2 separate regions of the Homo sapiens genome follow, and region 2 is linked to region 1. The links come from fine-mapping of genetic effects on gene expression. A gene starts in region 1. The other region holds a variant in brackets. All regions are shown on one strand. Distances are between the middles of the regions.

Region 1 (5,385 bases):
TTGCAGTTCTTATAGGCCAAAGTTGAGGCCTAGCTGAGAAGTGGGCTTAGAGAAGCCTGACTAAAGTTTGATCATGAAGAGGGTCTTTGTTGCTTTTCCTATACCATCCTTTTGTCAAGGGGCAACTTTTGATGATTAAAGACAAAGTTGGAGCTCCTGTGTCTGGCTCATCTCTGTGGAATATGAAGCAAAGGAAGAAAATGTTTACCTATTCTCCAAGCACAAGAAATCATATCTCTAAGAGATTAAAAATAAAACAAAACAAAAACAAAAACAAAAACTCTGTGTCTCCCAGCCCGGAAAGGAACAACCATGATTCATGCCTGGAAAATGTCTTAGTAATCCCCAGATGACAAAGAGAGAACTACTATGGATGATTAGAGCACTCTCCCAGGGCACCTGAATCCTGTCATCCTGGAGGCTAACCAGGAGCAGGTAAGGGCAGCATTTGGATGTGAAACCAATGAGCAAAATGTAAGGGAAGAATCAAGGCAGACCTGGCTCAGTCATAGGTCACGGTACATTTACTGCCTCTTCCTTCTCTTCTCGAGGCTCTCAAATTGGTCTGTACTGAGTAGAGGGGGTGGAGGGCAGGTGAGGGATAAGGGATATTCAAATAGTCAAAGTAAGGAATATATTGTATTAGTGTGTGAAGGTGTGTGAATAGTCTGCACTTAGGTTTGCCTTTAATAGCCAAATATTGAGATATTAAACACAAAAGCCTTGGTCATCATTTTTTTTCTAAGCACCATCATCTATTTTGTAACCTTGTTTATTCTACCCAAACTTCTTCTCTTTCACACAAACTTGTGAATAAGAGTGCAAATCAATACTTTAAATACACTCTCGGTTTGCATTTGGCTAGAAAAAACTATGAAGATAATAAAAATGGGACCTGCGTTTATAATATAATTATCATGAATAATGGCAAAAGGAAATTAAATGAAGTGAACCATCAGCCTTCATGAAATCACTGTCTGTCTGGTAGTCTTGCTGGGTGTCTTCCAGCCTCAGATTTAGCCTACCTTTTATGTGATGACACAATGACCATTTAGAAAATGGGCAGTGATGCCAATGATTATCAGACATCATTTACTGTGGACCAATATAATTGGGAACACCACTTCTTTTTCTCCTGATTTGGTTTTCCTGCCATGAGAGTACACAATGACATTTAGAGCAGCTTCATGCAACCATACTAAAGTGAAAAATTAGTCATTTTGAACATCTTGGCAGTGGAACTGTATAATTACTTCTGTCAAGTGTTTGTGTTTTGTCTGCATTGTACATATTTTTTCTTTCCTATGAGTGATTGGAGGAGTGGAGGGGGAAAATAAAGGACTTTTAAAGTCTATAAACATTATCATAAAAAAATTTCAGGGGGCAACTGCTAAAGATAAGTGGAGTCTTAGGAATGTTAGGGGTTCTTTTATAGGCAGGGGCTTAATTAGGCAGCTAAAGTTCTGTTCCATAACCTTGCGGTAGAAAATGACTTATGGCTAATTTTGAGGGGTGGGCTTGGCTTGGCAGTGGCTATTTCTGGTCAGGCTCTTCCCTTTTATAATTATGAAATTTCCTTCCCCTGATTTCCTAGAACATTTGCTTATTGTCAGGATAATTCATCTGACATTTACTAAATCTGGCCTTGTAGAGTTAATTACCTTTTCCTATTCCTAGATTACCTACATTGCAAGCCTAGAAGGTTATCTATCTCTTTTTCATTGCATCCACCACAATACTGGGCACACAGGTGGGCTCAAGACACAAGGTTTTGGAATTTTTAGGGCAGAAAACATAATTCAGAAATCACAGCGTCATGGGATCTGTAAAAATGACCAAAAAACTTGGTTAGCTATCTGAGTGGGCAGGCTTCTTTCCCAGAGCAGTAATTGTCACACTTTGGCGTGCATCAGAATCACCTGGAGGGCTTCAGTTTCTCATTCTACGGGTCTGGAGTGGGGACTGAGAATTTGCCTGGTACTGTGTATTACATGCATTATCTCAATTCACGCACAGCCTTATGAAATGCCTACCACTTTAATTATAAATGACTCGCTGGAGCGCAGAGGCCACGTGACTGGTGGGGGTGCTTGGCAGCACTGGCCACTTCCATCGTCTTGGGGGTGGGGGTGGCGGGGCGCGCGCGTGTGTGTGTGTGGTGATTAGCATGCCTTTTATTTCTTTCAGGGTCTGGAGATAGAAGAGAAATTCCCTGAGAAAAAGAAAAGTAGAAAGGTATTTACTCTGATCTTCTGGCCCCATCTGGTGGTTTTAAGTCTGACTAAAAAAAAAAAAAAAAAAAGCGCTGATTCGTGATCTCCCCCTGCTGGTGAGAATGGTGGGGTCAATCCGGCCGCCTCTCGTACCAGTTGTTCTGAGGTGCATTTCTGTGGAAGCATTTCCGTCATTCTGAGACAGTTGGGCTGAGGCGGTTGGTCGCCTCTCTCTCTCTCTCTCTCTGTTCCTCATCTACATTTTGATTGGTTTATTTTTGTATTGTTTTCTTTCAGTTTCCGATAGGTGGAGAACATTCTGCTAATAGCTTTTCTTCCAGTCCATTTGTGGCTTGTTAAAGGTACAACATGTATTGTCAGTCGTGACGAGAGCTTTTTGCCTTATATATTGATTATATATTATAAATATAGAAGTATATCCTGTGTCAGGCTGGAGATGTGGGAGGAAAACTGGCTGAGGGAACTAGCCTTTAATTAGTTTATTTCCTCCCTGTCAAACCAACAAACTTTTCTGGAACATCTGAAAAAATAACCTTTAAAAAGTACTTCAGGCTGACCGTGGTGGCTCACGCCTGTAATCCCAGCACTTTGGGAGGCCGGGGCGGGCAGATCACCTGAGCTCAGGAATTCGAGACCAGCTTGACCACCATGGCGAAACCCCGTCTCTACTAAAAAGACAAAAATTAGCCGGGCGTGGTAGCGCGCGCCTGTAGTCCCAGCTACTCGGGAGGCTGAGGCGGAAGAATCGCTTGAAACTGGGAGGCAGAGTTGCAGTGAGCCAAGATGGTGCCACTGCACTCCATCCTGGGTGACAGAGCAAGACTCTGTCTCAAAAGAAAAAAAAAACTTAAATATACAGTTACTTGGTGACAAAATGTTTATCCTGCCCTGCAGATAGTGTATCAGTGAATGAATGTATTAAACATTACAGCTGGGTGCAGTGGCTGCGGCAGGAGGATGGCTTGAACTGGGAGGCAAAGGTTGCAGTGAGCCAAGATGGCGCCACTGCACTCCAGCCTGGGCGACAGAGTAAGACTCTTGTCTCAAAAGAAAAAGAATTAAATAGCCAGGCGCAGTGGCTCACGCCTGTAATCCCAGCACTTTGGGAGGCTGAGGCAGGCGGATCACGAGGTCAAGAGATCGAGACCATCCTGGCCAACATGGTGAAACCCCGTCTCTATTAACAATACAAAAATTAGCTGGGCATGGTGGCATGCGTCTGTAGCTACTTGGGAGGCTAAGGCAGGAGAATCACTTGAGTCCAGGAGGCAGAGGTTGTAGTGAGACGAGATCGTGCCACTGCACTCCAGCCTGAACGACAGAGTGAGACTCTTGTCTCAAAAGAAAAAAAAATTAAATAGCTGGGCACGGTAGCTCACGCCTGTAGTGCCAGCACTTTGGGAGGCTGAGGCAGGCGGATCACGAGATCAAAAGATCGAGACCATCCTGGCCAACAAGGTGAAACCCCGTCTCTACTAAAAATGCAAAAACTAGCGGGACATGGTGGCATGCGTCTATAGCTACTTGGGAGGCTGAGGCAGGAAAATCACTTGAGCCCGGGAGACAGAGGTTGCAGTGAGCCGGGATGGCGCCACTGCACTCCAGCCTGGCGACAGAGCGAGATTCCATCTCAAAATAAATAAATAAATAAATAAATAAAATATACTATTACTTGGTAACAGCTGGGCGCTGCGGCTCACTCCTGTAATACCAGCACCTTCGGAGGCTGAGGCGGGAAGAAAGCTTGAGGGCAGGACTTTGAGACCAGCCTGGGCAACATAGCAAAACTTCCGTCTCTACCAAAAAATAAATGAAATAAAATAAAATTAGCAGTGTGTTGTGGTGCCCGCCTGTAGTCCCAGTTACTCGGGAGGCTGAGGTGGGAGGATCACTTGAGCCTGGGAGTGGGAGGTTGCAGTGAGCCGAGATCATGCCACTGCACTCCAGCCAGGACGACAGAGCAAGACTGTCTCAAAAGAAAAAATAATAAAAATGAAATATAGTATTACTTTATGACAGCTGGGCACGGTGGCTCACTCTTGTAATTCCAGCACTTTGAGAGGCTGAGGTGGGAGTATTGCTTGAAGGCAAGAGTCTGAGTTTGAGACCAGCCTGGGCAACAGAGCAAAACCTCCATTTCTACCAAAAGAAAAAAAAAATTAGCTGGGTGTGGTGGCGCGTGCCTGTAGTCCCAGTTACTCCGGAGGCTGAGGTGGGAGGATCGCTTGAGCATGGGAGGTTGATGCTGTAATGAGGAGTGATCTCGCCAACTGCACTCCAGCCTCCTGTGCCTCTTGCTCTCAAGTCAGGATGATGAATCGGGGTAATGACTTCATGTGGTCACTAGGAGGTCGCAGCTGTTGGAAAACGTATTCCCATGCAGTAGGAGAACACCCCGTAAAAAAGCCGTCTTGAGAAGGTGTTCCTCCAATTAAAAGGGAAATTGGTGATTTCTCTTGACAGAATCACTCCCCATCCTAAAAACTGCATTTTTGTGTATGTCGTATTTATTGATACATTTCCTTAATATTTCCATTATGAAGATATGTATAGGTTCAAGGAAGGCAGTAACTGTCTCTGTGTACAACCTAGCAGTGGCTCATGTGCTTAGACACTCAGTAACTCTTGGTGATGTTGAGATGATTATGACAATAGTGATGGTGTTGATTATAAGAGTGGACTCAATCATTTGTGTCTTCTGAAATTCTCAACAGTTTTACATTCACCTAGTGAATTTATAAATTCACATATCACATTCTGCCTTGTGGTGTATTTGTTTCATTATGAGCTTTATCTTTCCAAAAACAGGACTTCTTGAAGAGAATGACTGTGTTTTGCCCATTTTCACTTACCCTGCTAAGGGTAGCACAGGTTCATATATATTAGCAAATGCCTAATGATATTTACATAATTGAAAATAAGTGGTAATGGTTCTTCAAGAATTGCTAGCCCCAGGACCACATAGAAGTGCTTGGTCAAGGCCAAAAACATTGGGTCATCCTGATCCAAACTGCCTGGATTATTGTAATAACTGGCTAACTGATTCCACTGAATCTATCCTTGCCACTCTTCAATGTAACAGTTTTTAGGAACTGATATACTTTATTAGCTACTCTGTTATTTTTTATAATAGCTTTGTTGAAATATGATT
Region 2 (5,385 bases), 44 kb before region 1:
AAGAGAATTATGGCGGTAAGAGGACCCAGTAAGATGCCTCTGGAATGCGAATGTTCCCAGGCATTGTCCAGACTCTCAAATTTCAGCTATGTTTAACTAGAAAAGATGATGCCAAACAACAATTATCAGGAACAATCAAATGCAGACAGTTTAGTAAATAACTCGCCTAGACCAATTTTCCCTGCCAGAAATTCAGCATTTGATTATGCTTTCAATTTAGATTTTTGCCTCTTTGTACTCCAGGGGTAGGTCAGGGCATGCAGTGGACAGTCAATAAATACATCCTAAAGAAATGAATTTTGTACCAGCTCTACATTCTAGGATAACAGGTCTGCTCAGAAAACAAATGGTGTCAGTTGGACCCATTCTGTTGGGCTACCCTAACAGAATACCACAGACTAGGTGGCTTAAACAACAGAAATTTATTTTCTCAGGATTTAGCCAACATAACCAGGCTTAAAATGCAGTTGTAAGAAGGAAGTCGTGAGGGAGTGCTGACTTTGATAGATAGCCCCAATAAAAGCCCATCATTCATTCAACAAATGTTTACCAAGTCCCAACCACAAAGTGCTGATGGTGCAGAAAGGAACAAGGTACAATTTTTCTCACAAAAAGTTGTCTGATGTTGGGAGACACACAATAAACATCTAATTCCAATTCATTGTGTTCAGCACTAGGTCACAGTTCAGTGGCAAGGAACCACTAACTCTACCTGGAAGAGTCATAAAAAAGAAGAGGACACATGGGCCTGGCACCAGAAGGACTGCCAATGTTGCATCTGGTAACTCAATGTGTCATTTACCTAGGGCAGTACTGGGTTGCCTAAATAGTCAGATGCCTAGGGCATTAGCAAAGCTGGGGTAAAACAAAAATGTAAATCAACTTTACATTATATATAAAACAAGAGAAAATAAGAAGTTGGTTAAATTTTGTTCCATCTATTTTATGGTGCAATATCATTTTATTCTGAATTACATATGGGGTAGGAAGAGGTGGGCATAACTTTTTCTAAAGTATATGTATTCTGGCCAGGTGTGGTGGCTCATGTCCGTAATTCCAGCCCTTTGGGAGACTGAGGCAGGAGGCTCACTTGAGCCCAGGAGTTACTTGAGCCTGGGCAACATGGTGAGACCCCATGTCTACAAAAGATTTTTAAAAAATGTTTAAAAAGTATCCATATTCTGAAAAACAATACACATACACAAAATTGCATAAAGTATAAATGTACAACTAAAAGTTGTTATAAAGTAAACACTATGTAACCATCACCCAGGCAAGAAATAGAACATTGTCTGCAGCATCCCAGGAGCACCACTGCAGACGGCCAGGTGTCTTGGTTTGCCTTGGACTGTTCCACTTTTAGCACAGAAAGGCTCAAATCCCAAGGAAACTCCTCCCTGGGATGTGAAAAGTCTCAATTTTCTGTGATGGGTACAGAAGATTGGGGGAAAAGCACAAAACCCATATGGTGACCCGCCCCCCCCGCCCAAATAGGGAGTGAAAACAGCAGTTTGTAATGTGAAATGGATATGGCATAGATTCTCTGCCTTCTGTAGTTGCTGTGGCCATTTTTTTTGCCCCAACTGCTGATATTGACAACCATGATTTGCAGCTCACAATAATGATCATCCATTGTTGCATCACGGTGACTGATGCCACTTTAGCATGCAACTTAAGTGCATTGAAATTGTGAGCATTAACAAGCTCGCCTTTGTATTTGCCTGTGGATCAACTGTTGTAATTTGTATCAAGGTTGTTTAACCTTTCACATCATGAATATTGTGACCATGTGCATTAGTTTGCTAGGGCTACCATAACAGAATACCACAGACTAGGTGGCTTAAACAACAGAAATGTATTTTCTCACAGTTCTGGAAGCTGACAATCCAAGACCAAGGTGCCAGCAGGTTTGGTTTTTTCTGAGGCTTCTCTCCTTGGCTTGCAGATGGCAACCTTCCTTCTGTGTCCTCACAGGTCTTTCCTTTGTGCTTGTGAATCCCTGGTGTCTCTGTGTGTGGAAATTTCCTCTTTGTATAAGGACACTGGACAGATTAAATTAGGGCCCACCCTAATAGCCACATTTTAACGTAATCACCTCTTTAAAGGCCCTATTTCCGAATACTGTCACATTCTGAGATACTTGGGGCTAAGGTTTCAGCATATGACTTTTTGGGGGACACAATTCAACCATAACACCATGTTTTGTAAGAATGCAGATAACAGGTGGGAAAATTGCTTGAGCCCAGGAGTTCGAGACCGAGAGTTCGAGTTCGAGATCAGCCTACCCAACATAGTGAGACACTGTCTCAACAAAAAATAGAAAAATTAACCAGGCGTGGTGGCGCATGCCTGTAGTCCCAGCTACAGAGGTGAAAGGGGAAGGATCAATTGAGCCTGGAAGGTAGAAGCTGCAGTAAGCCGAGAATGCTCCACTGCACCCCCAGCCTGGGTGACAGGGTGAGACCCTATCTCAAAAAAAAAAATGAAGTTTCATATTATCTTCTTGATTTCAATGAAGATATTAATAAAACCACAGAAAATATGAAAAAATACAAACGAGACTTTTCTCATTTATCTGTATGTTTAGCAGACAGCATAAATGTCAATTGTGTGGAATTCCATTC[A/G]GTCTATAAACTTTTTATTGAAATAAATGAAAAGACCTTACCTGCTAAATGTCATGCACACCTTGTACACAATCCTGCTAAAGACAGATACATTCTGCTTATCTATAAAATTAAAGGTTTTATAATGAAAGTTTTTGATGACTTTTTAATTTCTTCAAAATATGCAGAAGTATGTAGTGAGTTTTTTTTTACTTTATAGAAATGGGAGGAGATAGCCTCCTTAACAGGTGCCTACAATATCTATCATTGTTGCCAGCCATAGGAAAAAAAATGTTAAAATGTCAGCCTGCCATAAAACCATAATTTCAAAGTGCGGTATGAGAAGAATGTCCTTCTGTAATTTGGAAATACATTGAGAATAAAAATGGAGAAAAGGATGACAATAAAACAGAAATTTATCAGCTGTTCCTCTAAAACTGTTTGAAGACCATTGAAGAGGTCATATGGAGCCTCGGAAAGAATGGACTCATTACAGCTGAGCTGTTCCATGTTATGAGTAGATCTCAACAAAAAACCACATGGCAAAAAATGACTCATTCATGCAGACATCGTAAGACTGCTTCAGAACAACAACAAAAAAAGTTACCAGGAAAAGGCAACAACATGAAATAAGACTTCATCAATTTCTCTAATAAAACTGTAACTTATTTGGAATCCAACTGGATTCCTATAGCAATCAAAAAGTTCAAATTACTTCTGCCCCTTGGGACCATTTTCCCTTTGAAAGAGAAGTTTAGCTTGTGGTAACATCTATTTATTGGGAGTTACGTAAGGAAAAACTCTCCACAAACTGTGTTCTTCCTCTACTCTCACCACCACCAAAATCATCAACACAGAAAACTTCTGTGACCAAATGTAGAGGGAGGTTTCCCCACACACCAACAGTGGACACCAGCTGGGTATCCTCTGATTCTCCAAAAAGATAGTGTCAGATCCTACAGGTTGGGGGATCAGTCCCCAAGACTGCCCTCCCCACACCAGTTGCAAGTCTGGGCCTCCAGAACTTCTGGCCTACCTACCGGCTTCAAGTTGGGGTTCCCATGATCCCCTCTTTCATTTGATTAATTTGCTGGAGTGGCTCATAAAACTTAGGGAAACACATTTACCGGTTTATTATAAAAGATATTGCAAAGGATACAGATGAAGAGAGTACAGGGTGAGCTATGGAGGAAAGGGTGTGGAGCTTCCCTCCCCTCCCTAGACATGCCACCCTCCAGGAACCTCCATGTGTTCAGCCCTCTGGAAGCTCACTGAACACCGTCCTCTTGTGTCCGGAATTGGTGGGTTCTTGGTCTCACTGACTTCAAGAATGAAGCCGCGGACCCTCGCGGTGAGTGTTACAGCTCTTAAGGTGGCACGTCTAGAGTTTGTTCCTTCTGATGTTCGGATGCGTTCGGAGTTTCTTCCTTCTGGTGGGTTTGTGGTCTCGCTGGCTCAGGAGTGAAGCTGCAGACCTTCGCGGTGAGTGTTACAGCTCTTAAGGCAGCGCGTCTGGAGTTGTTCGTTCTTCCCGGTGGGCTCGTGGTCTTGCTGGCTTCAGGAGTGAAGCTGCAGACTTTCGCGGTGAGTGTTACAGCTCATAAAAGCAGTGTGGACCCAAAGAGTGAGCAGCAGCAAGATTTACTGCAAAGAGCAAAAGAACAAAGCCTCTACAGTGTGGAAGGGGACCTCAGCGGGTTGCCACTGCTGGCTCCGGCAGCCTGCTTTTATTCTCTTATCTGGCCCCACCCACATCCTGCTGATTGGTAGAGCTGAGTGGCCTGTTTTGACAGGGCGCTGATTGGTGCGTTTACAATCCCTGAGCTAGATACAAAGGTTCTCCACGTCCCCATCAGATTAGTTAGATACAGAGTTTGGACACACAGGTTCTCCAAGGCCCCACCAGAGCAGCTAGATACAGAGTGTCGATTGGTGCATTCACAAACCTTGAGCTAAACACAGGGTGTTGATTGGTATGTTTACAAACCTTGAGCTAGATACAGAGTGCCGATTGGTGTATTTACAATCCCTGAGCTAGACATAAAGGTTCTCCAAGGCCCCACCAGAGCAGCTAGATACAGAGTGTCGATTGGTGCACTCACAAACCTTGAGCTAAACACAGGGTGCTGATTGGTGTGTTTACAAACCTTGAGCTAGATACAGAGTGCCGATTGGTGTATTCACAAACCTTGAGCTAAACACAGGGTGTTGATTGGTGTGTTTACCATCCCTGAGCTAGACATAAAGGTTCTCCAAGGCCCCACCAGAGCAGCTAGATACAGAGTGTCAATTGGTGCACTCACAAACCTTGAGCTAAACACAGGGTGCTGATTGGTGTGTTTACAAACCTTGAGCTAGATACAGAGTGCCAATTGGTGTATTTACAATCCCTGAGCTAGACATAAAGGTCCTCCAAGGCCCCACCAGACTCAGGAGCCCAGCTGGCTTCACCCAGTGGATCCTGCACCGGGGCTGCAGGTGGAGCTGCCTGCCAGTCCCGGTGCCGTGCGCACACTCCTCAGCCCTTGGGTGGTCAATGGGACTGGGCGCAGTGGAGCAGGGGGCAGTGCTCGTCGGGGAGGCTCGGGCTGCACAGGAACCCACGGAGTGGGTGGGAGGCTCAGCCATGGCGGGCTGCAGGTCCCAAGCCCTGCCGCGCGGGAAGGCAGCTAAGGCCCGGCGAGAAATCGAGCACAGCGCCGGTGGGCCGGCACTGCTGGGGGACCCAGTACACCCTCCGCAGCCGCTGGCCCGGGTGCTAAGTCCCTCATTGCCCGGGGCC

Which allele goes with the higher level. Positions count from the first base shown, and alleles are read on the strand shown. Sizes are in standard deviations (SD) of each study's normalised expression.
In carriers of allele A in region 2, the expression in testis of the gene that starts at base 2,390 in region 1 tends to be higher than with G alone (small effect, 0.18 SD a copy in GTEx).

What was found. PIP is the estimated chance that this variant, and not a neighbour inherited with it, causes the effect. A credible set is the group of variants that fine-mapping cannot tell apart.
Region 2: its variant is the best candidate, but not a certain one, in a credible set for the expression of CCNB3 in testis (GTEx, PIP 0.82).

Annotation. Positions count from the first base shown.
Region 1 is chrX:50,202,376-50,207,760 of GRCh38, forward strand. It overlaps CCNB3 (cyclin B3), which reads left to right and starts at 2,390. Exons shown (of 13, transcript NM_033031.3): 1 at 2,390-2,575.
Region 2 is chrX:50,158,216-50,163,600 of GRCh38, forward strand. No RefSeq gene overlaps it. Among named protein-coding and RNA genes, the nearest start is that of AKAP4, 40 kb to the right of the region's middle. The variant A/G (reference allele first, on the strand shown) is at 2,625.